4 linked regions of the Homo sapiens genome follow. The protein of the gene in region 4 interacts with the protein of the main gene of each other region in a biochemical or structural test. Each region holds a gene or a part of one and is shown on either strand. Other genes may lie near its edges.

Region 1 (7,026 bases), on a different chromosome or scaffold from region 4:
TATAACAAATGAAAAGATGTAATTAGATTATAAGAAAAGCATCTGCCTGTAAAATATGAAGGAAGAAAGGAAGTAATGGACTCCTCATGGGGCCCACAGGGAACCAGGAAGGACCCAGAAAGGGTGCCGGGCCCTTCCCCTGTGCTGCAGCTACAGGGCCCCATTTCTTCAGAAGGAGCGTTCTGGGTATTCCATCGTCCCCTGGAAGTCTGGCAGGTACAACCCCCTCAACACTCCAGGGAGGGAGGGAATCCACAGGAAGCCATGAACTGCTGGTTTCAGCGGGGAGAGGTAGTGCTGACAGCTCTGATAATCTACCTGAAGCCCTTTGTGAGGAATACTGTAAAACTGCAGTAAGCTGTCAATATTCGACATTAAGTCATCATTTCAGAAGAGAAGCCTGTTTGAAGTAGGAAAGGTTTGAAAAAAAAAAAAGATGCCATGGTTCTTGCAAGTCTGCCTTGTTTGGTACCAGCACAGAGCATCACTGTCACTAAGTGTGCCGGGGGAGAATGCTGAGCTGCTTGGCGGTGTGTGCGCGCCTGTGCGAGGCCAGGTCTCACAGTCCCAGAGACTTCTGGACGATCTGCTTGGCAATCTTATAGAACTGCTCCCGGTCATCGCGCCACATTTTGGACGCATCCACGTTAGCTCCACTTTCGTCATTGGGCTCTGAAAGAAAAGGGAACACCCTCCATGTAAAAGGGAGTCTTATACGTAAGCAGCCTGGCAAGGTCTCCCATTTATTTAAAACACTGGCGGGGGCTTTCAAGAGCTGTGTCCCAGAAACAAAGAACCTGAGAACTGCATGGGGTCGGCCCCACCTCTAGAGTGCTGGCCACGCAGGTCTCAACGAAAGCCACTCTCATGACTCCTGCGTTCTGAGTGTCTGAAGACACCAGGACAAGTTGTCATCTGTCTTGCTGTGGAACATGCGACAACCACCTAAGCACAGGCCCACACGGCCTCCCACAGCAGCCTCCTGGGCCACTGCACTTCTGGCACCCGGACAAGCTACACGGGGACCACCTGCTGCTTATTTCACCTTTCTCAAGACACTCTGCAGTGTGGCTTCTCTCTCACAGAGCGCCCTCTCAGCAAAACTGCCCCTCACAGCTCCTACCAAGACAATCCCAAGCAAATGTGCAGCCTAAGGTAGACACCTGACCCCAGGATACCTGACCCACCCCCTAGCCAGCGGCACTGGCAGTCACTGCAGAACTGCAGTTAGGAGGCACGGAGGGAGTAGCCAGGGCCTGCCGGAAGGCAGAACGGAGAGAGACCACCAGAACTGGATGACATGTGCTGAGGCAGCAGCTGTGCAGTGCGGCGGTGGCGCTGCTCAGAATGCACGTGGGGACCGGTTCAGAGCAGAGTTGATGAGGATAAAACCCACAGCTGACATCTGAGGACAGCCTGAGCCACTGCCTCCCTCCCAATCTCCAATCCCCTGGCCTGGCTCCCTCCACTCAGCACATGAAGAGGGTTCACGCCTCAGCCCTCTCAGGATACACACTCGCGTCACAGGCCCTGACCTCACATCCCTCTAGACCCCACTCCACGGCACCCAAAGGCTCTGCAGAGAATAGCTGAGTGGCCTCACTCTGGCATCGACCCCTGGCCCTCTGCTGGGTCTGCTCTTTCCTTTCGGACTTGCCGCCTTCCTTTCCCACACCCTTCCTCCTGACTGCCCTGGAAGACCCCTCCCTGCTATGCTGTCACCCTCCGTCCTACTCCATCACCTACTGCCTCATCCAGAAATGACCCCACATCTTCACTCTCGTGTCTGACCCCCTTTTGTGGATGGAGGCCCCTTGTCCCACACACCTCAAACTATTCCCCAAATCCTGCTGTCTCCTGAACCCAGAGCAGCACCTCTGGTAGACAAAGAACCAGGAGTCCCAGAGCCTGTACCTTCAAGGTCTCCCAAACCCACCCCTTCCTCTTAGCCCTGGGACCACTCAGCCCTTCTCTTTTCTCTCCAGGCTACTGCAACACCACGATGTCTCTGTTTGTCTTCCATCACACTATTGGTTACTGCTGCAAGGATGGCCCTTCGAAGGCACAGCTCACAGGACATCACACCCCCAACTCCAATCCCCAGGGTCTGCTGGGGCTCCTCTCCCTGCAGCCTTGGCTCCAGCCAAAATGAGCTGGCAGTGCCCCCATCAAGTCAGCCACCTCCTGCCTCTGGGCCTCAGCCCAGGCTGCTTCCTTTGCCCCAAAACCCCATTCCCTCCCTCCTACCTCATCAACACCTACATGTCCTAAACACACCCCAGACAGCCCCACCAGGAAGTGGCCCGAGAGTCCCTGCATGTGTCTGATCTTAGGGTGCATCCCACTGGCCTCTAACTGCTGGTAGGCTTGGACAGTTCCCTAGAACGTAGGAACAAAGAGTTGGGGTCTTTGTCACACGAAGCTTTACACCCCCAGTCCAGTGTGTGGCATGTAGTGGGTCCTCAATAAACACCTACTGAGGGAAAAAGACGATCAAGGACCAGAGACCAGTTAATTATGGCCGACAATACAATATACAACCCCAGGCTATGCTAGAAGGTATGCTTACAATTGGAAAAGTGTAGGCAGATAACATTAAATGGCAATAGCATGTGTAAACTAACTGCAAATGAGGAAAAGGACATTCTAAAGACAGGATGACGCAAGGCTGGAGAACACCTGCAGCCTGGGTGTCCACGGCAGCTCCTGCCAGGAGGCTCGGGCCTTACCTGCCAGCATGCTCACCACCGACAGCAGGATCTTCTCCACACTCTGCACAGGACTCCACCGCTCCGCGCTGCTCTCGTAGCCCATGGGGTCATCGCCTGGCGCGTGGAGGATGGAAATGCAGACTCTCCCATCAGGGTAGACTGCAAGGGTCAGAGGCAGCCAAGTGAGCCCAGGAATGGTGCCCGAGGCATCGCCGCGCTTGGGCAGGCTCCACAGATAATGAGAACAAAGACTGCAGACACAGCAACCAAGCTGTTTGCACAGCTGGGGCATAGCCTGGGGCCCTGAGTGTCACGCTTCATGTCTGCAGGAATCCCGGTGGGGCCTGCTCACTCACTGACAGGCTCCAGGCTGACCCAGCCAGTTCTAATCAGCTGTCGTAGTCTAATCCACTTTCATATGAATTTTTTTCAAGCAATATATACAAAAAGACTAAATGAAAGGTTATCTGGCAAATATTTTATCAAAATATCTAATGTGATTAGGATTATTTACAATACTTTTCAGAGCTAGTTCCTTAGCTATTTCTAATTCTATCATTAAATCCCTGAACCGGTCTGTGTAAAATATATGTTCACATGGCTATGATAAAGGCAACTGGAATTATGTAAATATCTACAAAAAGAAAGGCACCAGGATTTCTCTTGGTAGCTTACTCTAATAATAAGTAAATTATCATCAGTACAACCTGGAATGTAGGTCAATGTGTCTAAATCAAATCCCTTTCCACCAAATATCATCATTAAAAAGATACACAAGGTCTGATAAAGAGAAATAAATTTTCAATTCACAGCATTTAATCAGTCCTCTTTTACATAAAATTGGGAGGAATTCTCAGATGGCTCCATATATACTCAGATATGCAGTAATCCATCTAGATAGACTCAACTGTAAAATTATAAAGCCATTAAAGTTATAATAATAGAAATAGCAATTTTAAAATACATTTATTTAACTCACCTGAGTTAATAAGCTCTGAATTTCATGAAAATTCACAAATGTGAATGGCGATCACTTACCTTCAAACAGTCTTGTCTTTCATACCTGGTCCTATGTGTTTCCACTCATCCATTGTTTCAGTGGTGAACGTTCAGTGGTGAACGCTCTACTATCCAGGAACTGAACCACAACTTCTCATTCAAGGAGAGTGGAAGAAACTAGATGCATACTTGCCCTGGACATCAGGCTGTCCACCTAAGATCCACATCCACAAAATCAGGAAGTTTCCCACTTCTGTGTTGCCTTCTCCAGGAGTTGGTCCCATAGGGTGACACTGCATCCACAGAAGCATCAAAAGCACCTGTGTCCCTGCCACAGCCCCTCCTTCACCAAGTCCCAGCAGTGCCATGTCCTAAACCTCTCGTGGATCCACACACATCTCTTTATCTTTAGTGCCCACATTTAGTTCCCAAGTTGCCGGTGTCTCTACCCTAGACCACTACAGCCGAGGGCCTGCCTGGCTTCCTCCCACCTGTCCTTTGCACTGTACCCAGAGCGAGCCGTCAGAGATCATTCTGGTCATGCCACTCCCTTGGAGTCTTTCAATGGAGTTCCGCCACTCCCAGGAGAAAACATCAAAACCTTCAGTATTGACCAAAAGGCCTGAGGTAGTTTGGCCCCGGCCTTCCTCTCCCGTCACTTCCTGCGCTGGGCCTTTGCACATGTGAAGGGCCCCTCCTCCCCGAATCACTCAGGTAACTCCTGCTTCACTCCCTACAGATGGTCCATCCAACCACCACCTCTGCAAGGTGCTGCCCAGAACTTCCTGATGTGACTTTGCATTTTGTTTGTGTGATTCTCCTATCAATGTCCATCCCTGTCCTTGGAATATAAGCTCCTGAAGGTCTGCTATTATTTGCTCACCACTGTATACCAGCAACTTTCAGTACGTGTGTTGAATTGTTTTTAAAGTATTTATTGACTAGTTTTTATGATATTGGTAGACCTATAGTTCTCAAAGATAATTTTTAAAAAATCAAAATAATCCAATTACAGTAAGGCAAAAATTTATATTATCTGAGCATTAAAAATAATTACCAGAACATTAAAAATAATAATCAGACCACCTGTAGTACATAGTCACATAAGGTAATCAGTTTATTGGTCATATTTGTCACTAATGCCATGTCACAGGTATTGTTCTGAATAATATATTTCTCCTCAATACAATCTTAGTATTTTAATTACCTACAATCCTCTTCATAGTTGCATTTTATAGCTAACCAATTTGAAACTACTTCAATTACTCTTACCTATCAATTGTATTTTTTAACTTTTTATTATGGAGAATTCCAAAAACACACTCAAGTAGACAGCGTGTGATGAACCTCCATGTTATCATCTAACTCAGGCGCATGGCCAGTCTCCCTGAAAGAAGGCACGCTTCTGAGCATCCCCTGTGCACACAAGACTGAAGCAGCTTTGAGATAAGAAAAGAAGTACCAAATGGTCTCTCTCAGGCAGCCGCCCACTACCTATGTGTACCAATATCTGCAGTAAATGAGAAGTCCTAAACGAGGGTTAGGACAGCAAGTCTATTGGCAGACGGCATTTCCACCAGTGAAGTGGCCGGGGGTGGGGGGGTAGTCCTGAAAACCCCTATGGCAAAGATGTAAAAGGAAGAATGTAAAAGGAAAAAATAAAAACTACAGCTGTTCAGAAATTCCAATTCCTACTACTGGACACATTTTCAAATAAGCTACAGTACAATTCACTTAAATGACCTTATTTTTTTCCTCCTTTTAAAATTAATATATATTAATTTTAGGGCAAAAAAAGATTTACAAAAAGGAAAAAAAATTTCAATCTGAAAAAAGAATCACTTTTAACATTTTTGTGCTTACTTTTCCAGTTATATATACATTTACATGTGAATTTCTTTTTCAAGAGGAAATTATAACAGTGCTACTGCTTTTCCCAGTCAATATAACACAAATACTACTTTGTATCATTGATTCTTCTTTTAGATCATTTAAAAAATCTACATCACATTCTAACATATATGATATAGTTTGGGTGTGTCCCCACCCAAATCTCATCTTGAATTGTAGCTCCCATAATTCCCACATGTCATGGGAGGGACCCAGTGGGAAGTACTGAATCATGGAGGCACATCTTTCCCGTGCTGTTCTCGTGATAGTGTACAAGTCTCACGAGATCTGATGGTTCCGTAAAGGGCAGTTCCCCTGCACACACTCTCTTGCCTGCCGCCACTAAGATGTGCCTTTGCTTCTCCTTTGCCTTCTGCCATGATTGTGAGGTCTCCCCAGCCATGTGGAACTGTGAGTCCATTAAATCTCTTTCCTTTATAAATTACCCAGACTTGAATATGTCTTTATTAGCAGCGTGACAACAGACTAATACAATATATAACTTAATTTATTCTTGTGTTAAAAACCCAGGTTAAGTCAAAATTTTCACCATTACAAATAACACTATGACAAAGATTAGCATAACCCCTTCTGAGCACACACCCATGTGTAAAACTTCCTCCCCAGTGAAGTAGGGTGGCTGGGTCAAATGGCATCCGGTTTTAGGTGCCTGTTGTCTTTTATCTATATTAAACTGACCTTCAAAATTGAAATCATGTGCTTAATACCACCATGCTTACTTGGCTGAATTTCAAAACATAAGAAGTGTTTTCTAAAGATCTACATCATAGACATATAGAATATACCACATTTCAGGTGGCTGATAATATTATCTCCGTACCTATCCTGGTACCACAAAAACTACTTCCAAAAGCACTTACTGTTGGGATGAAACATCTCACAGGTAAATCTCATCTTTGGGGGACTTAACGGGTAATCAAGTGGGAAACTCAGGATGGCAGGAAAAACACCAAACTCAAAGCAGGTGTCTTCTGGGCCCCTAGAAGATATAAAATACGTAGACTGAACTTCAAAGTACATTTTTCAACGTCGACCACAATTGACAAATGGGTTAAGAACATTTTTACCACTTTAAAAATGCACGTGAGGCCGGGTGCGGTGGCTCACGCCTGTAATCCCAGCACTTTGGAAGGCCGAGACAGGCAGATCATCTGAGGTCAGGAGTTCAAGACCAGCCTGGGCAACATGGTGAAACCCTGTCTCTACTAAAAATACAAAAATTGGCTGGGTGTGGTGGCGCATGACTGTAATCCCAGCTACTTGGGAGGCTGAGGCAGGAGAATCGTCTGAGCCTGGGAGGTGGAGGTTGCAGTGAGCCAAGATCTCGCCACCGCACTCAAGCCTGGGCGACAGAGCGTGACTCCGTCTCAAAAAATAAACAAAAATAAAAATAAATAATAAAAAT
Region 2 (7,026 bases), on a different chromosome or scaffold from region 4:
AAATAAACATTAATTCAATTAATCTAACCCCTTGCTATATACTGTATGTGTGTTAAGGGATCCAAAGAACAATTTTTTTTATCTTGATGAGCTTACACTGATAGACATGTAAAGTAACTGCAATGAAATGTTATAGGTATCATGAAATATGAACAAGGGACACGAGTTCAAAGAAGAAAGGTCAATTTATTAATGAAGAATCAGGTTCAAAGAAATATACAACTAGTAAATGGAAGAGCTTTTATTTATTTGAGACGGAGTCTCACTCTGTCGCTCAGGCTTAAGCGCAGTGGCACGATCTCAGCTCACTGCGACCTCTGCCTCCTGGGTTCAAGCAACTCTCCTGCCTCAGCCTCCCAAGTAGCTGGGATTACACATATGCACCACCACACCCAGCTAATTTTTGTATTTTTAGTAGAGACTGAGTTTCACCATGTTGGCCAGGCTAGTCTTGCGGCCTCCTGACCTTGTGATCCACCCATCTCGGCCTCCCAAAATGTGCTGATTATAGGTGTGAGCTACTGTACCCAGCCAGAGCTTATTTAAAGTGAGTCCTTCTCCATCTCCCAAGTCTTCCCCCTTTTTTTTTGTAGGGGTGGAGGGCGGGGGGAATGGGAACGGGAAGGGGGACAAACAAGACGCAGAATATCATCTTGCTGTTTGTTGCCCAAGCTCGAGTAAAATGGTGCAACCTCAGCTCACTGCAAGCGCCGCCTCCCCAGGTTCAAGAGATTCTCCTGCTTCAGCTGCCTCAGTAGCTTGGATTACAGGTGTGCACCAACGTGCCCAGCTAATTTTTTATTTTTAGTAGAGATGGGGCTTCACCATGTTGGCTGAACTCTTAACTCCTGACCCCAGGTGATCCGCCTGCCTCAGCCTCCCAAAGTGCTGGGATTACAGGTATCAGCCACCGTGCCCAGTCCTTTTTCATATTTTCTACAAAATATGGAACTAGAAAAACACTCAGGTCACTTAGAATGTGACCTGAGTTTATTAGATTAACATGTCTTTATTAAATAGTTATATTAATTTTGAATAGATGCTTCAAATAGCATATACTTTCACCTGATCCAATACTATACAAGATATGTTTTTTCTGTGTAAAATTAACAATTTAAAGGTAATCCCAAACACTAAAGTTGTTTTTGTTTTTTTTGAGACAGGGTCTTGCTCTGTCGCCCAGACTGGAGTGCAGTGGCACGATCTTGGCTCACTGCAACCCTCTGCCTCCTGGGATCAAGTGATTCTCCCACCTCACCCTCCCGAGTAGCTGGAACTACAGGAGTGAACCACCACAGTTGGCTAATTTTTTTTGTCTTTTTAGTAGAGACGGAGTTTTTGTTGTCTTTTTAGTTGAGAGGCTGGTCTCAAACTGCTGAGTTCCAGTGATCCACCCACCTTGGCCTCCCAAAGTGTTGGGATTACAGTCGTGAGCCACCATGCCCGGCCCCAAACATTGAAGTTTTAATAACCTAATTCCAGAAGTTCTTTGTAAGCTTTCATTTCAATTTTCATAAAATCAAATGCTGTCTATGACTGCTTCTGAATAAAGGCAATCTGCTGATGGGATTTAGGCAAAGCCAAATTTCGTTTCGTTTGTTCGAAAAAAGAACTTTATAAAGAAGGCAAAATATTTCAATGTTACAATTTAACACTAAAGTTCTGCCATGCCAAAAGAGGAAGAACTACGAGGTTCAGAGATAATGAAACTAGGCAATATAAAAAATTGAGACCCTATGATATTTAAATTCTATTATGAATCAGCAGCAAACTACACCAAAAAGAAACAAAATCCCCAAAGAATAAGGAACACTGTGATCAGCAAATCGACTCAAATCGTACAAGTCCAGAATTTATGTTAGATTTTTTCAGAAACCTTCTACTTCTTTTGCTCTCATCAGTGCAAAGTTGCTCCCTCACAGTGCCTCAGCTCTTCTGTGGCAATAAAACGTTGGTATTCTTTTTTTTTTTTTTTTAAAGTGGTGCTGTCGCCCAGGCTGGAGTGCAGTGGTGTGATCTCGGCTCACTGCAACCTCCACCTCCCAGGTTCAAGTAAATTCTCGGGCCTCAGCCTCCAAAGAAGCTGGAATTACAGGCATGTGCCACTACACCCAGCTAAAAATGCTGGTATTCTTATAGGTTGATTTTCTACTCTTAACTGCTGACCCATAAAAATTTGAGTTGCAAAATATATCTCTGGTCAGTTATTCATTCCAGGGCATATATTCAAATGCCTACTGATATTTCTACTTGGATATCTCTACTTGGATATCTCATGTCATGCGTCCAAAACTGAAACTTGTCTCAATCCCTTTTTTCCTGTTTATTAATAGCAAGCCATAACTGAAAGCCATAAACCAGGATCTCATCATCAACTTCTTCCTCTCTTATCTCAGAATCAAGATAGTTATCAAGTAAGATCTTTAAAATTTCTTGAATTAGCTTCTCCTTTATGCCCACTGTCACTACCATCTTAGTTCATGATGTTATCTTCAGCCTAGATTATGGCAATAGCTTACTAATGATTATCCCTCCATCCTAATGATAAAGTGGTCTTTTAAAAATGTTACTCCCCTGCTTGAAATCTATGATAGTTTTTAAGATAATTCCAACTCCTAAGTACATACGGTGCTTTATGATCTGGGTGCCCATCTAGTTTCATCTTCTGTCTCTTCTATAGAACATGTTCTCTACTGCACATAAAATATTATATGGATAACATATCTTTTTCTCTTCCCTACTTGGAATATTCTTCCTTATAATATAGCCCTTCCTTTGTCTTATCTGCTCCCTACCCTTCTTTTATACCTCTTTAAGCACATAGTTACCATTATCCACCCATATATCTAACATTTACTTATATTTCTCTTTTATTAGACTACAAAGCTCCTCAACGAGTAAGGTTAAAGGTGGAAAAAGTCTTCAGGTATCAGTAACCTACGTGGGAAATGACATAATAATACACTTGAAAAAAAAGTTGAAAAAATAATCCTTATGGACCAAATAAAATAGTACCTATGGACCAATTATTTTAATTCAGATAGTTTTTCTGGTTGACTATGCTCAGGCTGCCAAAGGTTACATTTTTCAGATACTTTCACATTTTTCACAGGTACTCTCTTCTACATCTCTGTCATAGATTAGGTGGGAGTTAGTGTTGTTCTCTAAATCCACTTTTTCTGGATTTCCAATAAAAAAAAATTTAAGCAAGTAAATATCAGAGGCAATAGGTAAGGAAGTCAATTTCTTCTAATTACATCAATTCTTGTTGGAAACTAACCTTAATACAGTACCCCACGCCCCCCTCCCCAAAAAAACCCACGCACACAAAAAACTAGCAATGCTGTCATTTCTTTCGAAGGTTTAGTTTTTAGTCAATAGTTGTGCTTCCGAAGTAGCTTACCTTCAGAAAGAATAAGCCAGTACATATGATTATTAAAGCCAAGCAATTTTGCTGCATAACTAATGATCTAAAGGATTTCCCAACAACTCACTAAAATCAAAGTTACTCTATTGAAACTCAAAATTAGATGGTATATTCCCTACAGTCAGGAATCTTCAGTTCTGTGGCACTGGCACCACTTTAAGGGACCTAAGTAGTAGTCCAAAGCAAAAGTGACGTTGTTAACTGTCCAGTTCTCCCACTAAATCTGTAATTTATGGGTTGCTTTAGGTCACAACTGCTTGCTACATAGAGCAACCATACTCACAAAATAAGCTACTATTTATCTTATACAGTGATGCTTTGTCACAAAGAAGTATTGAGAAGCCAAAAGAACAAAATGAGTTGTTTCATTGGTGCACTCCACAGTAAGCATATAGTTAACTATTTAAAGCTGGCATCTAAATTATGTGCTTACTTATGTACAAGACAATACCCGTACTTTGGGTGGATTTTTATAATCTTTGACTCCTTCTTGAAATTTACCCAACCAACAGTGAGAACTAACCTTTTTAACTGAAAACATATTTCAGTGAGTACTGCTACCAAAGCAAAACCCAGCAGTTGTGGTTAATCAGGTTAATATTTAAATGGTTCTGAAAATCACATGCTTCTGTTTGTAAAAGCAGAAAACTGCTAGTCATTATATTAAAAGGTTGCTGAAAAAGTTCAGCAAGGAATAGCCATCACCTGAAATATATATTTAAAAAATGAAAAAAGGTAAATGTTTTCTCAAAATAACAGCAAATTAAGTAAACTGCTAAAAAATCTGTCAGAATAAGCAACACCATTCTCTAAAAAAATTACTACCATACACTCATCATTCATGTTTCCTTTTGATTGTCTATAGGTATGTTCCTTGCCTTTTGGGAAAAACTAGTGTGTTGTTCAAAATAACAAAGTCTAAACTGTCAAGCAGAAAAACCAACTAGTTTTAAAGAGTTAGTTTATTCTGCACACCATCCAATTAGAAGTTTTAATTACCAACGCTTCTGTGCTTTCTTAGTATTGACAATTTTTATAATGAAACTATCAACTACCCTCTGAATCAAAGATGAGCTTTATTTTAAGGCATTTTATAGCATTCTTTGAAAACTGGTAATCCAAAATGGGAAAATTCTAGAGGTTGCAAAAGCAACTGCTTTACAAAACACTAGGCAGATAATATGGAATTGACCTAGTAGGCACTGTGGTAAACACATATCCCATCTAAAAAAGGGAGGCAGCTGTCATTCCATCCCAAGCCATTACTGCTTATGGAATGTGGGCCTACTCAGAAGGCTTTTATTTGAAGACTGCCAACTTTCAAAAATATCGTGTGGGCCAAACTGGGTAACTCAACATTTAACTGCGTGTATTAAAATTAAACAATATTGCTACCAAATTAGATAAAAGTAAGTACTTTTAATAACTACAAAGCCAGGATTGTGCATTTCGTTATTACAGGACTATTTTTACTGTTTTAAATGTTACTTTGTTTTAAAATGATCCAGGACGTTTCAAAGTATTAAACTTAATATTTGCACCCCTGCCATGTCTTACTTTGATTTAGTTTTTCTACCTTTAGGGCACTAACATTTTAATTACTCTAAATTAATCCTCCCTGCTTCAATTTCCCATTAATTTATCCTACTCAGCACTTCATTCACCAATCACTTATTTTCCATCTTGTCACACTTCAGCACTTGTTTTAGGTATCTGTCTCCTCTAATACAGTGTAAGTTCCCTATAAGATCGACAGGGATGTTTATTATGTTCAATTTGTATCCTTATTACCTGGCACACAGTATGTACTCACATTTGAGACAGAAAAATGACTAAAGTTAGAATCAGAATTACTAAATAAATACTTGTTGATTCGACTCATCTACTAACTCTAAGAGCATTTTTTCCTTTAGAATTCTAAATATTACTTACTGACCATTATCTCACCTAGTACATTATTGCTCTTTATGTTGCTTATAAAACCACCAAAAAGGGAAGACAGTTTTCAGGAAGATACACATGTAACTTAGAAAACAAATCCTTAAGCGCCTTAGCAAGTTAAAAAAAAAAAAAAAGTTAAATATTTGTGTAAGATACAGTCTTACCCCAGGATGTTTTAGTGCGCTCTAATTCTCTGAAATTCTTAGATGGTATCCATAATTCTGAATATTCAATTATCCAGCATATAGTTGCTTATCTACCCAGGATAGAAAGGAATTTTGCTATATTCAAAATATCACTTTCTGCCTAAATATATTCAAATTTTGCATAAACTGAAGTTCTATAAAGAATCAAATATCAAAATACAATTAAGCTAGATTATTGGCAGCTGCAGTAACAGAATAAGATCTCTGAGTAACACAACGCATGGCATATCAGAGCCAGTAACTTTGTCTCTATAAATAACAGGAAGTTCCATGACAATGCTTTACACAGTGCTATGTAGAAAAACTGAACTGAGATACAGAGATGTTTGGTAGGTCATAGAGATGGCTATACTCTAGAACGTGAACACAGGGATAGACACAAAGTACACGTAACAAATGACTAACTCATTATGTTTTTTCTTTCAAATGCAGTACAACTATGGAATATCCAAAATAGAATTAACTATATGATAAAATAAACCTACAGACCAAGTTAAAAATTACAACCAAATCAATGCTGGATTTTCACTTAAAACTAAATTTAAAAATTCTTAATACTTACAGGTCCCATAATTGTGGCTTGCCAATGAAACACTAGAAAAAGAAAAAAAACTCTGGTTATCTAAAAATGCACAAGCTTAAAAAAAAATTAGGCATAAAAATCAACTTGCAAGTTACTTACTATCATCCCCAACTGGACCTGCAGAACATTGTGCTGGAGGGTCACGGGCCAAATCACTAAGTTCCTACACCAAGACAGAAAATGGGTGAGTCACATAAGCTTAATTTAAGAAAACAAGCAAATGAGTCCACTGCTTTCAGTTACTTTCACCCTATTTTTAAAGGCACACTCCATCACAATTCACATAAATAATATATTCCATTAGGAGAGAGAACATGCCTGAACATATGCTGAGACAATCATCTTAGCTAGAGTTCGTAAAAATATATATGCAAACACATTGATACAAAATTTTTTATTTACATAAAAGCCAATCTCTTACAAACCGAAATAGCTATAATTAGATATTCTCATAGTTTAAGAGCTTAGACCAGAGAGAGCTCAACATTCACGTTATTTGTTGAACTTCCAAGACCACTTTCAGAGGCCCTCAACTGTCTTAAATTCTTTGTTCTTCCTGAACCATCCTTCCTCCCCAATCCACTAACTCTATTTTCTACCTGAAAACAAACCAAAAAAACTCTCATGGGGCTAAGTACCTTTTTTGTTTTCTAATCTCCTTATTCTCTCAACTCAACCTTTTTTTTTTTTTTTAAACTCAGCATCCATTTTTAACTATTGAAATTTTTTTTTTTTTTGAGACGGAGTCTCCAGGCTGCAGTGCAGTGGCGCAATCTGGGGTCACTGCAAGCTCCACCTCCCAGGTTCACGCCATTCTCCTGCCTCAGGTGCCCGCCACCATGCCAGGCTAATTTTTTGTATTTTTTAGT
Region 3 (7,112 bases), on a different chromosome or scaffold from region 4:
CCTGCCTCAGCCTCCCGAGTAGCTGGGATTACAGGCGTGTGCCACCACGCCCGGATAATTTTGTATTTTTAGTAGAGACGGGGTTTCTACCATGTTGGCCAGGCTGGTCTCGAACTCCCAACATCAGGTGATCCGCCTGCCTCGGCCTCCCAAAGTGCTGGGATTACAGGCGTAAGCCACCGCCCCCGGTCAAGATGGTTCTTAAATCAAAAACTTTTCTTGAACACTTGCCATATGCCTTTTAATTTTTTCCAACTGCTAGTAATCTTTTTTAAAGAAAAAAAACCTCCCTCACCACATGTCAAACTCTAGGAAAGCAAGTAATTCGAAGAGTTCCACCATATACGAAATGATGTACAAGAGCACGGAAATAAAGAGGCCAGTGTCTAACTGCTTAAGTAGACATAGAGTTCAACTGGAATGACAGTCCCTAATGAATAACCACCATATCACTAGACCAAGTGCCTAGGGAGTGCTTTCTTTATTGAATAGGGCTTTCTTTGCTTTCTTCTATAAAATGAGTTAAATGTAAAAAAGCGAAATCTCGCTATGCTTCCGCTAAATAAGAGGAAAGGCATTATTTAATAAATCTAGTCTGGTGGGTCCCACCCAGCATGCATATTTAAATCACACCTGGAGAGCTTTTAGAAAGCATCCCAACCCCCACCTCCACACCCCTGCCCCAATGCCAGAGCACCTGATTTAATTGGGATAGCGTAAATAAATTAGTATTTTTGAAGCTTCTCAAGTTTTTTCTATGCTGCTAGGGTTTATATTGAGAGAAAGGAGAAGTGGTCATCGTTTTCATTGATCACCTAAAATATTCAGAATTGTCTTTTCTTTGAAGGTTATTCAGACGGGCGCAGTGGCTAACGCCTGTAATCCCAGCACTTTGGGAGGCCCAGGCGGGCGGATCACGAGGTCAGGAGATCGAGACCATCCTGGCTAACACGGTGAAACCCCATTTCTACTAAAAAATAGAAAAAATTAGCTGGGCGTGGTGGCGGGCGCCTGTAGTCCCAGCTACTCGGGAGGCGGAGGCAGGAGAATGGCGTGAATCCGGGAGGCGGAGCTTGCAGTGAGCGGAGATCGCACCACTACATTCCAGCCTGGGTGGCAGAGCGAGACTCCATCTCAAAAAAAAAAAAAAAAAAAAAAAGAAAGTTATTCAACCACAATATAAAATACCTTCTATAAATAAGAATGTCATAGTAAATCTTATAGTGGGCTCAAACTTGGTGTAAGCATATTATTTGTTGTGGGCTAAATATTTGCAAGGAGGCTGCGCACAGTGGCTCACACCTGTAATCCCAGGGAGGCCAAGGTGGGCAGATCACTTGAGCCCAGGAGTTCCAGACCAGCCTGGGCAAGAGGGCAAAACTCCATCTCTACAAAAAATTAGCCGGGCATGGTGGTGCACACCTGTGGTCCCAGCTACTTGGGCGTCTGAAGGAGAATTACTGGAGCCCAGAAGGTCAAGGCTGCAGTGAGCCCTGTTCACACCACTGCACTCCAACCTGGGTGACAGAGCAAAACTCTGTCTCAAAAAATAAAAAAATTTGCCCAGGACAAAGATGAACCAAACTGAGTCCCTGCCCTCAATGAACTCATAATCCAGAGCTACAGAACTGATAACAGCATACAGTTAATAGCTTTAAAATTATTCCTTCTACAAGTAGGTTATGGCAGGCCTGGTTAACAAGGACAGCCAGTGATTCTTGCTAATACACAGCTGTAAGACTTTATGATGCACATTCACTGAATCAGTTAAAAGTGTTATATCATTTTGGAAAATAATAAACTGTTTCCAAAACAATTATAAATCCCTGTAGTCTCTGAATTCCTTACCTCTATTGCCTCCAGTTCCCATCTTCAGGACTTCGTTGGTGGGTCAGGAGGACTCTGAGCACTTTTGTATCCATTCGTCAGCTCAACAGGGAAAGAGGGGGTAGGAGGAGGACCTCAGCATTGCCCTAATCTTGCCCATAGTTCCATGGAACCAGAAAGGGTTAACTTTTCCCACTTTCCTTGTACCTCCCTTTCTTCAAACCCTGAATTCTGTCTCTGCTTTCAGTGACTGCCTTGACTGATAAATTACAAGGGTTTTTTTGGTTGTTGCGGGATTTTTTTGAGGCAGGGTCTCAGTGGCATGATGATGGCTCACTGCAGCTTCAACTTCCTCGTCTCAAGCGATTCTTCTGCCTCAGCCTCCTGAGTTGCTGGGACTATTGGTGTGCGCCACCATGCCTGGCTAATTTTACTTTTTGTAGAGACAGGATCTCCTATGTTGCCCAGGCTGGTCTTCAACTCCTGGCCTCCCAAAGTATTAGGATTACAGGCATGAGCTAATGCCCCAGCTCATGAGGGATATTTTTAAGATATAGTTTCTCTTTACCATTTTTCTCCATGTAACCCTACCTGTGTGTCTTCCTCCTTTGCTATTGGAAGGGTTAGGACTGCAATGGCAGAAAGGCAAAAAAATTAAGAATATTCAGCTTTTAACTTAAAAAACACATTGCGAATGTCTAACAGGACCTATCAAGAGTTAGGCCTGGCTAACCTGATCACCAAGGCAGTCACTGGAAGCAGAGAGGGAATTCAGGGTTTGAAGAAAGAGGTACAAGGAAAGTCAGAAAAGTTAACTCTGCTTCCATGGAATCAGGGGCAAGGCTGAGGCAATGTTAAGGTCCTCATTCCACCCTCCCTTTACCTGTTGAACTGAACAGTTCCCCAAATGGATACAAAAGTACTCAGAGTCCTTAGTATAACAAAGTCCTGAAGGTAGGAATTGGAAGCAATAGAGGGAAGGACGGTGACCACAGAAAATATTCAAGGTCTTTGGGAGGTCAACACCTCTGAACCCCCTGGTGGTGGGGGGCCCTTCTGGCCCATTTGCACCTTTCTTGCTAGTGTAGAAAACCTGAAGTTATCTCAGGCTAGATATATAACCCTCACTCATGTCTGCCGGAGCTCTCCCCCAGAATATGAATCATATTTGTAGGTTTCTTTGACAACCAACCACTCATTGATATGCTTGGAAGACTGCACCCCCACATTCCTTAAAAATACAATGGTACTCCCCCACCATAGGCAAGTCCCCGGACTCTGACACATATCTTCAATTGAAAGCAGACCCAGAAAGGAAAAACTGCATAATACACCATCCTTTAATATTTGCCCAGAATTTCCAATACTAGAAACCCCACTGCAAAGCAGAAAGACTATCTGGTAGCTTCAAGGAACCATTTCAGGAGATTGTTGTGTGGGCCTCAGTATTCAAGGCTGCCTTAGAAGATCGTGCGATCCTCTCACTCTTCTTGCCCCAAGTACCAGAGTTAATAAGCCACTGAACCAACCAGAGGGGAATTATTTTTGGTCCCGGTTTAAAGAAAACAAAACAAGCTGTTGATTCTGCCATGACCTCTTGGGTAATGTTGTCTCTATACCTGTGATAAACAGAAAACAACTAATAAAGGTTTATCCCGCCCTCACCCTCTTAAACCCGCTTCACAGACCTGGCTGAAACTCACATCCAGGCGAGGCGCTCACGTGACCCGTTCTAAACGCGTCATAGGGACACGTGGTTCTAGATACTTCTCCCCCTCCCACTCAGGGGTGGATTGTTGACAAGGCCGCGGGCAGTCACGTGATCTTACATCATCCCACCTCCTTTCCCTGAAATCTCTGGCCCGGATGCGTCCCTCTTTCTCCACCCCGCCGAGCCTAAACTAGTGACGGGGAGGGAGACGGGATAGTGTTTCTGTTTCGTGGTCTTTGAATCCACAACCTCTAGTCTGAACACAGAGAACACAAATTTGTCTATTACTTCAGGAAGCCCAGGGGGAACCGCGCCCCGCTGAAGGGCTCGGGGAAGGCGCGCTCCCGCGTCCCGCCCCCTCCTCCCCCAGCACTCACACTGTGGTAGCGGCGGAGGGCGGAGGGATCCGGAGGCGGCGGAGGGAGACGTCATTGCAGGGTTGTTTGTCAGTCTCGGCGGCGGCGGCGGCGGCGGCGGCGGCGGCGATCCACAGTGATTCGGCCGCCGCGCCGGGGGGTGGGGGGGCTGCGCGGGACTTTTTTTTTTTCAGACTGACCGCGGGGCAGCTGCGGAGCATGTCGACCCCGGCCCGGAGGAGGCTCATGCGGGATTTCAAGCGGTAAGGGCCTTCACCTTCGCCTAGATGACGGCCCCTCAAAGCTGCGGGGCTGCAGGGCGTGGATCCCAGACACCTTCCCCTTTGTGACCCTCAGAGGGCCGGCTGTGGGCCCAGCGGGACTGGCGGAAGCCGGGTCCTAGCCTCGGCCCTACTCCCATAAGCTTTGCCGCTCGTTCTGGCGCCCGAAGAAATTTTGATACTGCTTCCCCTCCCCACAAAAAGTAAAACGGTGTCGATCGACTGGTCTAGGGTTCCCTGCTGCCCATTTCGGCCAGCTGCCCGGCGTCTCGCCCAGGCGATCAGACATTATCCGCCCGCCCCTGCACCCTGCGGCGCCCCCTTCTTGTCCCCTCAAAGTGAGCTCCTGCGGGAGCTTGTTCCTCTCCGGCAGCACCAGTCAGCTTTGTTTCACGGCCCCGCCGTCTTCTCCGAGGAGCCGTGTTGGGGCGAACCCCTCTCCCGACTCCTGCCAATCCTTTCCATTTGTGCCCTGAGGGTGGGGTCCAGTGCGTGAGGCCCGGAGGTTAACCCATCCCCCGAAACCCGACTCTGTCCCCGCCCGCCTGAAAGGACCTTGGGAACTGACTTAGAGATCTGGGACCTTAGAGCTGGCCACCCCGGCTGCCAGTGCTTTCTGGAACTCAGCTCTGGCTGGTGAAGAAAGCCCCTATCTATAGCCTCCCGAGTCTGGAAAAATGCCTTCCCTTAGACTGGCGCTAATCTGATACTCCCTGGGCCTCCTTTGGTAAATAAAATAGGGTTTTGTTAGGAGGTATTGGGGTTGTGAGATAGAAAATGATTATTCCGTTGTTTACCTTTTATTGGATACTTAGAGACATAGAAAAAATAAGTGAGAAAACATCATTTTGATACTCTGCACATTTTTCTTAACATTTTTTCTGGGGACACCTGCCCTAATTGAACAAAATATCTAGCATAAAAACTTAGATTTGTCGCTCAGGAAGTCACCTCTCAGCTATTATAAAGCCTATGTGAGGCACTTGGATTTGGCCAACTTATTTAATTCATTCGTAGCTTCTCTTAGCCATTTAAAGGTAGGCGTCAAGCAGTGCAGTTCTTCTAAGGCTTCTGTTCGTGGTGGCCTAATTTGCTTGAGATTGACTAAAAACCATTTTTTTAATGTGGACTAGTTGCAAATTATGATGCCCCATGAAAAACAACTGCATATGTATTTGTGTGTGTATATAATGTAGCATTTTTAATTGAGGTTACAGTCTCTGAAAGGAGATGCCCTTTTTGGTGCAAAAGTCATCTTTCTAAAGCTTGAAATCAGCGTATTTGATTAGCACTCATGACAAATTCAGATAGTAAACTAGTTCATGTCATTGTCGCCCTGGCTCCTTACTGTAATGCTCTGCTTAATTCTGAGTTGAATGCATGGCACCTTTTGTAGTTTCCAGAGATCTGCAGGTTACAAGAATTTGACTATGACGAATGTTGGAAAGCCTTGTGTTGAGTCTCCTGATCTGAGAGGTGGATTTGGTGTTAGTGCAGAGCCTTTAAAATAGGGACTGGCAGAAAACCTACTAATTACTTTTTAAAGCCATTGCTGTTTGAAGCAAAAGGAATAGAGTAAATCTGCTGCCTAATACTAGTTTCCTAGTTAAATTTAATGTGTTTTCAGTCATTTTGTGTTTACACTGAGGTTTGCTTTTTTTTTTTTTCTTGTAGCCATTTTGCAGAAGTAGCCTGGTTAGGATACACAGTCTTTGCATGTTTAGAGCAGCAAAATCAATGGTTCTGTAAAAATATTACTTGCTTTTGAGGTTTTAAACTTTTTTTGGTATAAGAGGACAGTCTATATACATCAATTCTTTTTTTTTAAATATATTTTAATTATACTTTAAGTTCTAGGGTACATGTGCACAACGTGCAGGTTTGTTACATATGTATACACATGTGCCATGTTGGTGTGCTGCACCCATTAACTCGTCACTTGCATTAGGTATATCTCCTAATGGTATCCCTCCTTTCTCCTCCCGCCCCACAACAGGCCCCTGTGTGTGATGTTCCCTTTCCTGTGTCCAAGTGTTCTCATTGTTCAATTCCCACCTATGAGTGAGAACACGTGGTGTTTGGTTTTTTGTCCTTGCGGTAGTTTGCTGAGAATGATGGTTTCCAGCTTCATCCATGTCCCTACAAAGGACATGAACTCATCCTTTTTTATGGCTGCATAGTATTCCATGGTGTATATGTGCCACATTTTCTTAGGCTAGTCTATCATTGTTGGACATTTGGGTTGGTTCCAAGTCTTTGCTATTGTGAGTAGTGCCGCAATAAACATACGTGTGCATGTGTCTTTATAGCAGCATGATTTATATTCCTTTGGGTATATACCCAGTAATGGGATGGCTGGGTCAAATGGTATTTCTAGTTCTAGATCCCTGAGGAATCGCCATACTGTCTTCCACAATGGTTGAACTAGTTTACAGTCCCACCAACAGTGTAAAAGTGTTCCTATGCATCAATTCTTGAAGAGATAATATTGAAAGAGGGATGATTCTCAAGCCCTTTCAATTTTTAGATAATTTGGAGAGGTATTTAATAAGTATATATACCTGGTTAATATATTTAAGTCATATGGTTCATTTTAGTTCACAATAACAAGGAAATGGAGTTAGTCTGTGTCTCAAAATAGATGGTATAGTGTCTGTAGGTGTTTACGTGGCCTCCTTAGTGGCCTTAATGTTCAACTTTTTAAATTACCACGCTGGATTTCCAGGTTACAAGAGGACCCACCTGTGGGTGTCAGTGGCGCACCATCTGAAAACAACATCATGCAGTGGAATGCAGTTATATTTGGGTGAGTTGAAAGGTTTAACAAATAATAGGTGTGTGCTGAATCTTTAAGAAAAGTAAACATATAACAACTGTCTAGGAAAAGAAACTGAGGTGGAATGAGAGATCTTAAGGACTAAAACTGCAAGATAAATT
Region 4 (7,026 bases):
CCACCACAACCTCTGCCTCCTGGGTTCAAGCGATTCTCCTGCCTCAGCCTCCTGAGTAGCTGGGACTACAGGCATGCGCCACCACGCCCGGCTGATTTTGCATTTTAAGTAGAGACAGGGTTTCTCCATGTTGGTCAGGCTGGTCTCGAATTCCCGACCTCAGGTGATCTGCCTGCTTCAGCCTCCCAAAGTGTTGGTATTACAGGCGTGAGCCACCACACCTCACCCCTCCTTTTTCTTGTTCCCATTCTTTCTGTCAGAGATCTTTCTGCCTCTGCCAGAAGCCCTTCTTTTTGGCCTTTCTTTCCCTCAGCTTCTGTTTTTTTTTTTTTTTTTTTTTTTTTTTTGCCTTAACCTCTTTTTAGTGCTGGTTGGGACAGTGTGTCTGGGGTCCTCAAAACTACTCTCAAGCTCAATTCACCTAGAGTACTTACAGGACTCAGCATATAGTCGTGCTTGTGGCTACAATTTATTACAGCAAAAGGATACAGACCAAAATCAGCAAAGGGAAAAGGCTGGTGCAAGTTTCTAGGAGTCTTCTCCCAGCGGGAGTTAAACAAGGCGGCCTTTATTTCCCCAGTAGCAACAGTAACTACAGAAATAACAGCAACAAGGTGTAACAAGACATGAAATGTTGCCAACCAGGGAAGCTTGTTAGACTCAGCACCACCTCTTTTACTTGGGGCTGGTCATGTAGGCGCCCCCTTCCTGGCACATAACAAAATTTCCAGACTCCCAGAAGGAAAGGTGTTCAGCGTAAACTGTATTGTTTGCATGAACGGTTTAGGCACAGTGAACCACTGATACCAGGTAGGGAGCGGTGGGAACCTTCCTGAATTCCAAGTTCCCAGACACCAGCCAAGGAGCCGACCTTGGAAGCAGGCCTTTCCAAGGGTTGTAGTTTCAGTCTCCTAGGCTTACACTTCTCTGCACATATGGAAACTGGGTTGGTTATGCAGGGTTCTCTGAGAAGCTTTCTGTAAGGAGCAGTGTCGTTTTTGCTTACCCAGGATTTATTCCCCCTTTCATTTATTTCATTTATTCACCAGATAGTTTTAGTACTGTTTTAGGTATTGGGGATATACCAAGGAATAAAACAAGATTCCTGGAGGGAGAGGGGAACGGACAGCAAACAATAGACACAATACGATCGTGAGGTATATAGTTAATGTTGGTGATGAGTGCTCCTCAAAGGAAACAACTAAAACCAGACAAGGGAAGTCGGGGTGTCAGGGAGAATGGTTTGTAGTATTGATGACAATGGTTAAGGAAGGCCTGAGTTCTGCAAAGACCTCAAGGATATGAGGGACTAGAGTGCCCTCTGCTGTGGAAGAGCCTGCGCAAAGATCCTGAGGTGGGAGGGGTCAGGGAGCCAACTCATTTTACGGTAAGTGGAGGTGGGATCCAGGGGAGGATTCTGAGCAGAGGAGGGACGTGGCCCAATTTGGGCTTTGAAAGGATCCTGCTTGTCTGTGTGCCAGCATCCTGGTGGTGGTTGGGGGAGTCTGCATCAATCCTGGGTGCTGTTACCTGAAAAAATAGCAGGTGTTAGACGAAAGAACAGATGTCTGGCCCATTGTCTCCAGTCTGTTCCTGTCCACAGCTTCCCTTTATGCTGAGCCCCTGCCACATGCATCATCATCCTGGCCATGTGGCATTGTCACAGACCGTCTCTCCTGCTAGCCTCCTAACTCAGGGCCTGGGTCTTCCCCAGCATTAAGTAAATCAGTCTCAGGCAGACAGCCCTTTATAGGTGTTTGGGCCAGGTGCGGTGGCTCACGCCTGTAATCCCAGCTCTTTGTGGGGCCGAGGTCTTTGAGCTCAGGAGTTCAAGACCAGCCTGGGCAGCATGACAAAACCCTGTCTCTACCAAAAATACAAAAATTAGCCACGCATGGTGGCACACACCTGTGGTCCCAGCTACTCGGGAGGCTGAGGTGGGAGGATCGCTGGAGCCTGGGAAGTTGAGGCTGCAGTGAGCCGTGATCATGCCACTGCATTCCAGCCTGTGTGATGGAGAGAGACCCTGTCTCAAAAAAAATAAAGATGTTTGTTGGGTGAATGCACAAATAAGTGAGCTTTGTTCCCCCATCCCCACCCTGGAACTGCACTTTCTTAACCCTTTAGAAGTTAAAGTCTGACACGGCTGCTGCAGCTGTGCGCCAAATGAATCCACATATCCGGGTGACAAGCCACCAGAACCGTGTGGGTCCTGACACGGAGCGCATCTATGATGACGATTTTTTCCAAAACCTAGATGGCGTGGCCAATGCCCTGGACAACGTGGATGCCCGTGAGTTTGGAGGCGGGTGAGGTGGTCACGGGCAAAGTTGTGTGTGTTTCGGTGTGTATATACCAAGAGGGGTGTCCGTCTTTCTGTCCTCTCCTGATGTTTCTTTCCTAGCTCTCGCTTTGTGCTCCCCACAGGCATGTACATGGACCGCCGCTGTGTCTACTACCGGAAGCCACTGCTGGAGTCAGGCACACTGGGCACCAAAGGCAATGTGCAGGTGGTGATCCCCTTCCTGACAGAGTCGTACAGTTCCAGCCAGGACCCACCTGAGAAGTCCATCCCCATCTGTACCCTGAAGAACTTCCCTAATGCCATCGAGCACACCCTGCAGGTGATAAGCTGTGGGAGAAGGGAAAGAGGCCAGGCATCTGGCCAGGCTGCTGCCTCTCCGCCCCCAGGCCCTTGCCTTGCCTTCAGATGTTGCATGCCTAAGTGTAAGATGTGCCTTTTCTCCAAACCTCCCTCCCTCACTTCCCACCAGGCAGCCTAGGTTTCTAGAATGACTCATTCTTTTTTCACTTTTATTTTGATTTTTTTTTCAACACATAGACAAATATTAAGAATATTATGATGAATACTCAAATACCATTCCTCACCTAAATTTAACAATTCTTAATGTTTTGCCACATTTTCTTCTTAGATTTATGTAGATTTTTCTTCTTTGTGCTTAAATGTGTCACAGACATCACAGCCCTTTACTCCCTACTATTTCAGTGCCTCTGCCAAGTGAGGATATGTTGCTGTAGAACAGGGTTTCTTAGCTTCAGCACTACTGACATTTGGGGCTGGTTATTTATTTGTCATGGGAGAGGGGATGCCCTGTGCACTGTAGGATGTTTCTCAGCATTCCTGACTTCTGCCCACTAGATGCCAATAGCACTCTCCCTCCATCATGACATCTCAAAATGTCTCCAGACATTGCCAGATGTCCCCAGGGGTGCCACATCACTCCCAGTTGAGAACTACTTCTGTCTAACAGAAACATCATTTTCATGCTCAGCAAAATTAACAATCATTCTTACCATCTCTTCTAGTTATTTATTTGTCTCTAATGGTCCATATTCAGGTTTTCCCCAGCTGTTACTCAAAATGAGTTTAACAGCTGGTTTGTCAGGATGATTCTGTGTGTATGGTGCATTTATCTACAGAACAGTGCATATATTATCTAGCTCGGGGTGTCCAATCATTTGGCTTCCCTGGGCCACATTGGAAGAAGAATTGTCTCGGGCCACACATAAAATATACTAATACTAACGATAGCTGATGAGCTGAAAAAATAAAAGAAAAAAAGATCCGTGCATAAATCTCATAATGTCTTAAGAAAATTTACAAATTTGTGTTGGGCAGCATTCAAAGTCATCCTGGGCTGCATATGGGCCACAGGTTAGACAAGCTTGATCTAGCTGAAGTTTTACAAAGTGAACACACAGGTGACCACCACCTGGGCCAAGAAACAGAACCTAGGGATTACCATTGTGCTGTCAGAATAATTCTTAGTGCAGTGTTTGAGGCCAAACCATTTAGAATAGTAGGAGTATGAGGGTGGGAACAAAATAGGGAAGGGAAAAAAAAAACAGTTCCATCTGTCACTTTCTCCCTTCTGACACTGCAGTTCCAGAGTGGGTATGTTTGTATTTGTGCACCAACCACAGTCTTGCTAGGTCATGTGTAACCTTGAACTTAACCTCTCTGTGCCGCAGATTCCTGTTCTGTAAAATGGGAATGACAGCATCTACCTCACAGGACTATTGTGAACCACTTGGCATTTACTGTGTGCCTGGCACTGTTTTAACCAAGCTTTAAATATATATGTATTTGCTCATTTCTTCCTAGCAACCCCATGAAGGTAGGTATCACTGTTGTAACACCTGTTTTAGAGACAAGGCACAGAGGTAAAGATGTTATCCTGTGTGCCTGAAGTCACAAAACTAGGTAATACGTGGCATAGCTGGAATCTGAACCTGAATTTCTAACATCTGTACACTCCAAACCACCTCGCTAATGACTGCGAACTGTCCTAGGAATTCTCAGAGGCCAGAAGTTCTGTCTTGTTTGCTATTTTATTTTTTGAGACAGGTCTCATTCTGCCATTCAGGCTGAAGTGTATTGGCACAATCATAGCTCACTGCAACCTTCCAACTCCTGGGAAGTGTCTGTACGTGTGTGTGTGTGTGTGTGTAAGTGTCTGTGTGTACGTGTAAGTGTGTGTACGTGTGTGTGTGTGTGTGTGCGCACGCACGCGTGCCCGTTACGTTGACCAGGCTGGTTGTAAACTCCTGGGCTCAAGTGATCCACCTGCCTCAGCCTCCAAAAGTGCTGGGATTACATGTGTAAGCCTCTGTGTCCGGCCTCTGTCTTGTTTTCTGCCAAGTCCTCAGGGCCTGGATAGGGATCATTGTTGGTTTGGTCTGAGTTTTTTGTGTTTTAAAAAACTGTGGTAAGATATACCTAATTGAAGTTTTTATTTTTTATGGAGGCATAACATATCTAGAATAAGGTACACAGATTTTTTTTTTTTTTTTTTTGAGGTGGAGTTTTGCTCATGTTGCCCAGGTTGGAGTGCAGTGGCGCAGTCTCGGCTCACTGCAGCCTCCGCCTCCCAGGTTCAAGCGATTCTCCTGCCTCAGCCTTCCAAAGTGCTGGGAATACAGGCGTGAGCCACCTCGCCTGGCACTCAGATCTTAATACATTTTTAGGCTGGGCATGGCGGCTGACACCTATAATCTCAGCACTCAGGAGGCCAAGGAGTGAGGTTTGTTTGAGCCCAGGAGTTCAAGACCAGCCTAGGCAACATAGCAAGACCCTGTCTCTACAACAAATCTTAAAAATTAGCCGGGTGTGGTGGCATGTGCCTGCTGTCCCAGCTATTCGGGAGGCTGAGGTGGGAGGATCGTTTCAACCTGGGAGGTCAAGGCTGCTGTGAGCCGTGATTGCATCGCTGCACTCCAGCTCGGGTGACAGTGTGAGACTTTGTCTCAAACAACAAAACAAAACAGTTTTCCACATACACAGCACTATTGTAACCACTGCCCAAATCAACTTCATTGATTTTTCTTTTTTTGAGACAGTCTTCCTCTGTCACCCAGGCTGGAGTGCAATGGCATGATCTCGGCTCACTGCAACCTCCGCCTCCCGGGTTCAAGAGATTTCCTGCCTCAGCCTCCTGAGTAGCTGGGATTACAGGCATCTGCCACCACGCCCAGCTACTTTTTGTATTTTTAGTAGAGATGGGGTTTCACCATGTTGGTCAGGCTGGTCTCGAACCCTTGACCTCAGGTGATCCATCTGCCTTAGCCTCCCAAAGTGCTGGGATTACAGGTGTGAGCTACTGTGCCTGGCCTGGTTTTTCAATTGAGGTGGGGGAATGGGGAAGGCTAGAGGGCTTCCCCACTTCCAGAGTAGCTGTGCGCCTTGTACTTGCTTTATTCACTGATGGTCCTTCTAATAATGCCTGCGGAAACCCATTTTGTCAACTGTGGCCACATGTAATCTGTTTGCTCTGTCTGCAGTGGGCTCGGGATGAGTTTGAAGGCCTCTTCAAGCAGCCAGCAGAAAATGTCAACCAGTACCTCACGTGAGTAACTCGAGTGCCCTCTCGCCCTGTCCCTGTCCACCAGCCAAGGCATCCCGGCTGCTTTCCTCATGACAGTAACACTTGGCACCAGGCACACTTTTCACATGAATGAGTGGCTGTTGGGGCCTCATGTTGTTTGGGGTCGGGACTAGTTTTCCATGGAGAAAGTAAGATTGCTCTGGAGCCCACTCTTGAGGCTGACATGTAATCCTATCCTCTGTCCTCTTCGATTCCTGATAGAGACCCCAAGTTTGTGGAGCGAACACTGCGGCTGGCAGGCACTCAGCCCTTGGAGGTGCTGGAGGCTGTGCAGCGCAGCCTGGTGCTGCAGCGACCACAGACCTGGGCTGACTGCGTGACCTGGGCCTGCCACCACTGGCACACCCAGTACTCGAACAACATCCGGCAGCTGCTGCACAACTTCCCTCCTGACCAGGTAATGCCCAGTTGTTGGGTCCATTTGGCAGAATGTGTTTCCCTGAAATGGGAGCCTGCAGTGTGGGTCCTCCCACTGTGGAGTCCAGCTGTGGCAGGTGCCCTGAGGCATGGGGATCTGAGAAGAGTGATTGATCCTGACCTGCTTTTTCCTCACCCTAGTTCCTTTGAGCAAAGAGGCTTGGTTGCTATTGCCCTTGACTGTGGTGTGGGCTGCGTCATACCTGATTCCCAGTCAGGGCTGTAGGGATTATGGGGGAGAAATTCTGGAGTTAAGAGCACAGGAATCAATATGGGTTCAAATCCAAACTCTACTTGAACTTAGGCAAATCACGTAACTTCTCTCTGTACCTCAGTTTCCTCGTCTGTGAAGTAGAAATAATAGTGATCTATCTCATGGGGGGTTTGGGGAGGATTAACTGGTATTTATTAAAATGAAGTTAGTACAATGCCTGGTAATCCATGAGAGTTTGTTAAATGATGGGCTGTTTAGCACAAAATGGCTACCCAGTGATTGGTAATTGTTCTCTCAGCCAGATCTCTGGTTCAACCTGTGGGACCCTACAGTTGAGGTATTTTGTGATTGGCTCCAGTCCGCATCGAGTGCCCAACCCAAGATAGTGAATTGGGGGCACATCTGGGGCCTAGGTGAAGCGTGAAGATTGTCAGAGAGGCCTTCACTCTCAGGTCCTGTTCTCAAAAATCTCTCCATCCCTTAGCTCAC

Evidence for each region.
Region 1: of the proteins of UBA1 (region 4) and UBE2G2, one has a biochemical effect on the other in vitro, tested with the Homo sapiens proteins (5 studies listed by BioGRID, with this or other methods).
Region 2: of the proteins of UBA1 (region 4) and UBE2D3, one has a biochemical effect on the other in vitro, tested with the Homo sapiens proteins (10 studies listed by BioGRID, with this or other methods).
Region 3: of the proteins of UBA1 (region 4) and UBE2B, one has a biochemical effect on the other in vitro, tested with the Homo sapiens proteins (10 studies listed by BioGRID, with this or other methods).

The regions. Positions count from the first base shown.
Region 1 is NC_000021.9:44,770,818-44,777,843, forward strand, and holds part of UBE2G2 (ubiquitin-conjugating enzyme E2 G2), read right to left. Parts: intron 6,601-7,026; coding exon 6,482-6,600; intron 2,871-6,481; coding exon 2,730-2,870; intron 673-2,729; coding exon 560-672; 3' UTR 1-559. UniProt on the Homo sapiens protein: Accepts ubiquitin from the E1 complex and catalyzes its covalent attachment to other proteins. In vitro catalyzes 'Lys-48'-linked polyubiquitination. Involved in endoplasmic reticulum-associated degradation (ERAD).
Region 2 is NC_000004.12:102,803,536-102,810,561, forward strand, and holds part of UBE2D3 (ubiquitin-conjugating enzyme E2 D3), read right to left. Parts: intron 6,321-7,026; coding exon 6,257-6,320; intron 6,169-6,256; coding exon 6,137-6,168; intron 1-6,136. UniProt on the Homo sapiens protein: Accepts ubiquitin from the E1 complex and catalyzes its covalent attachment to other proteins. In vitro catalyzes 'Lys-11'-, as well as 'Lys-48'-linked polyubiquitination.
Region 3 is NC_000005.10:134,367,483-134,374,594, forward strand, and holds the start of UBE2B (ubiquitin-conjugating enzyme E2 B), read left to right. Parts: upstream 1-4,113; coding exon 4,114-4,157; intron 4,158-6,900; coding exon 6,901-6,981; intron 6,982-7,112. UniProt on the Homo sapiens protein: E2 ubiquitin-conjugating enzyme that accepts ubiquitin from the ubiquitin-activating enzyme E1 and transfers it to a E3 ubiquitin-protein ligase. In vitro catalyzes 'Lys-11'-, as well as 'Lys-48'- and 'Lys-63'-linked polyubiquitination.
Region 4 is NC_000023.11:47,203,821-47,210,846, forward strand, and holds part of UBA1 (ubiquitin-like modifier-activating enzyme 1), read left to right. Parts: intron 1-447; exon of another isoform or gene 448-2,041; intron 2,042-2,127; coding exon 2,128-2,293; intron 2,294-2,427; coding exon 2,428-2,624; intron 2,625-5,802; coding exon 5,803-5,867; intron 5,868-6,107; coding exon 6,108-6,303; intron 6,304-7,021; coding exon 7,022-7,026. UniProt on the Homo sapiens protein: Catalyzes the first step in ubiquitin conjugation to mark cellular proteins for degradation through the ubiquitin-proteasome system.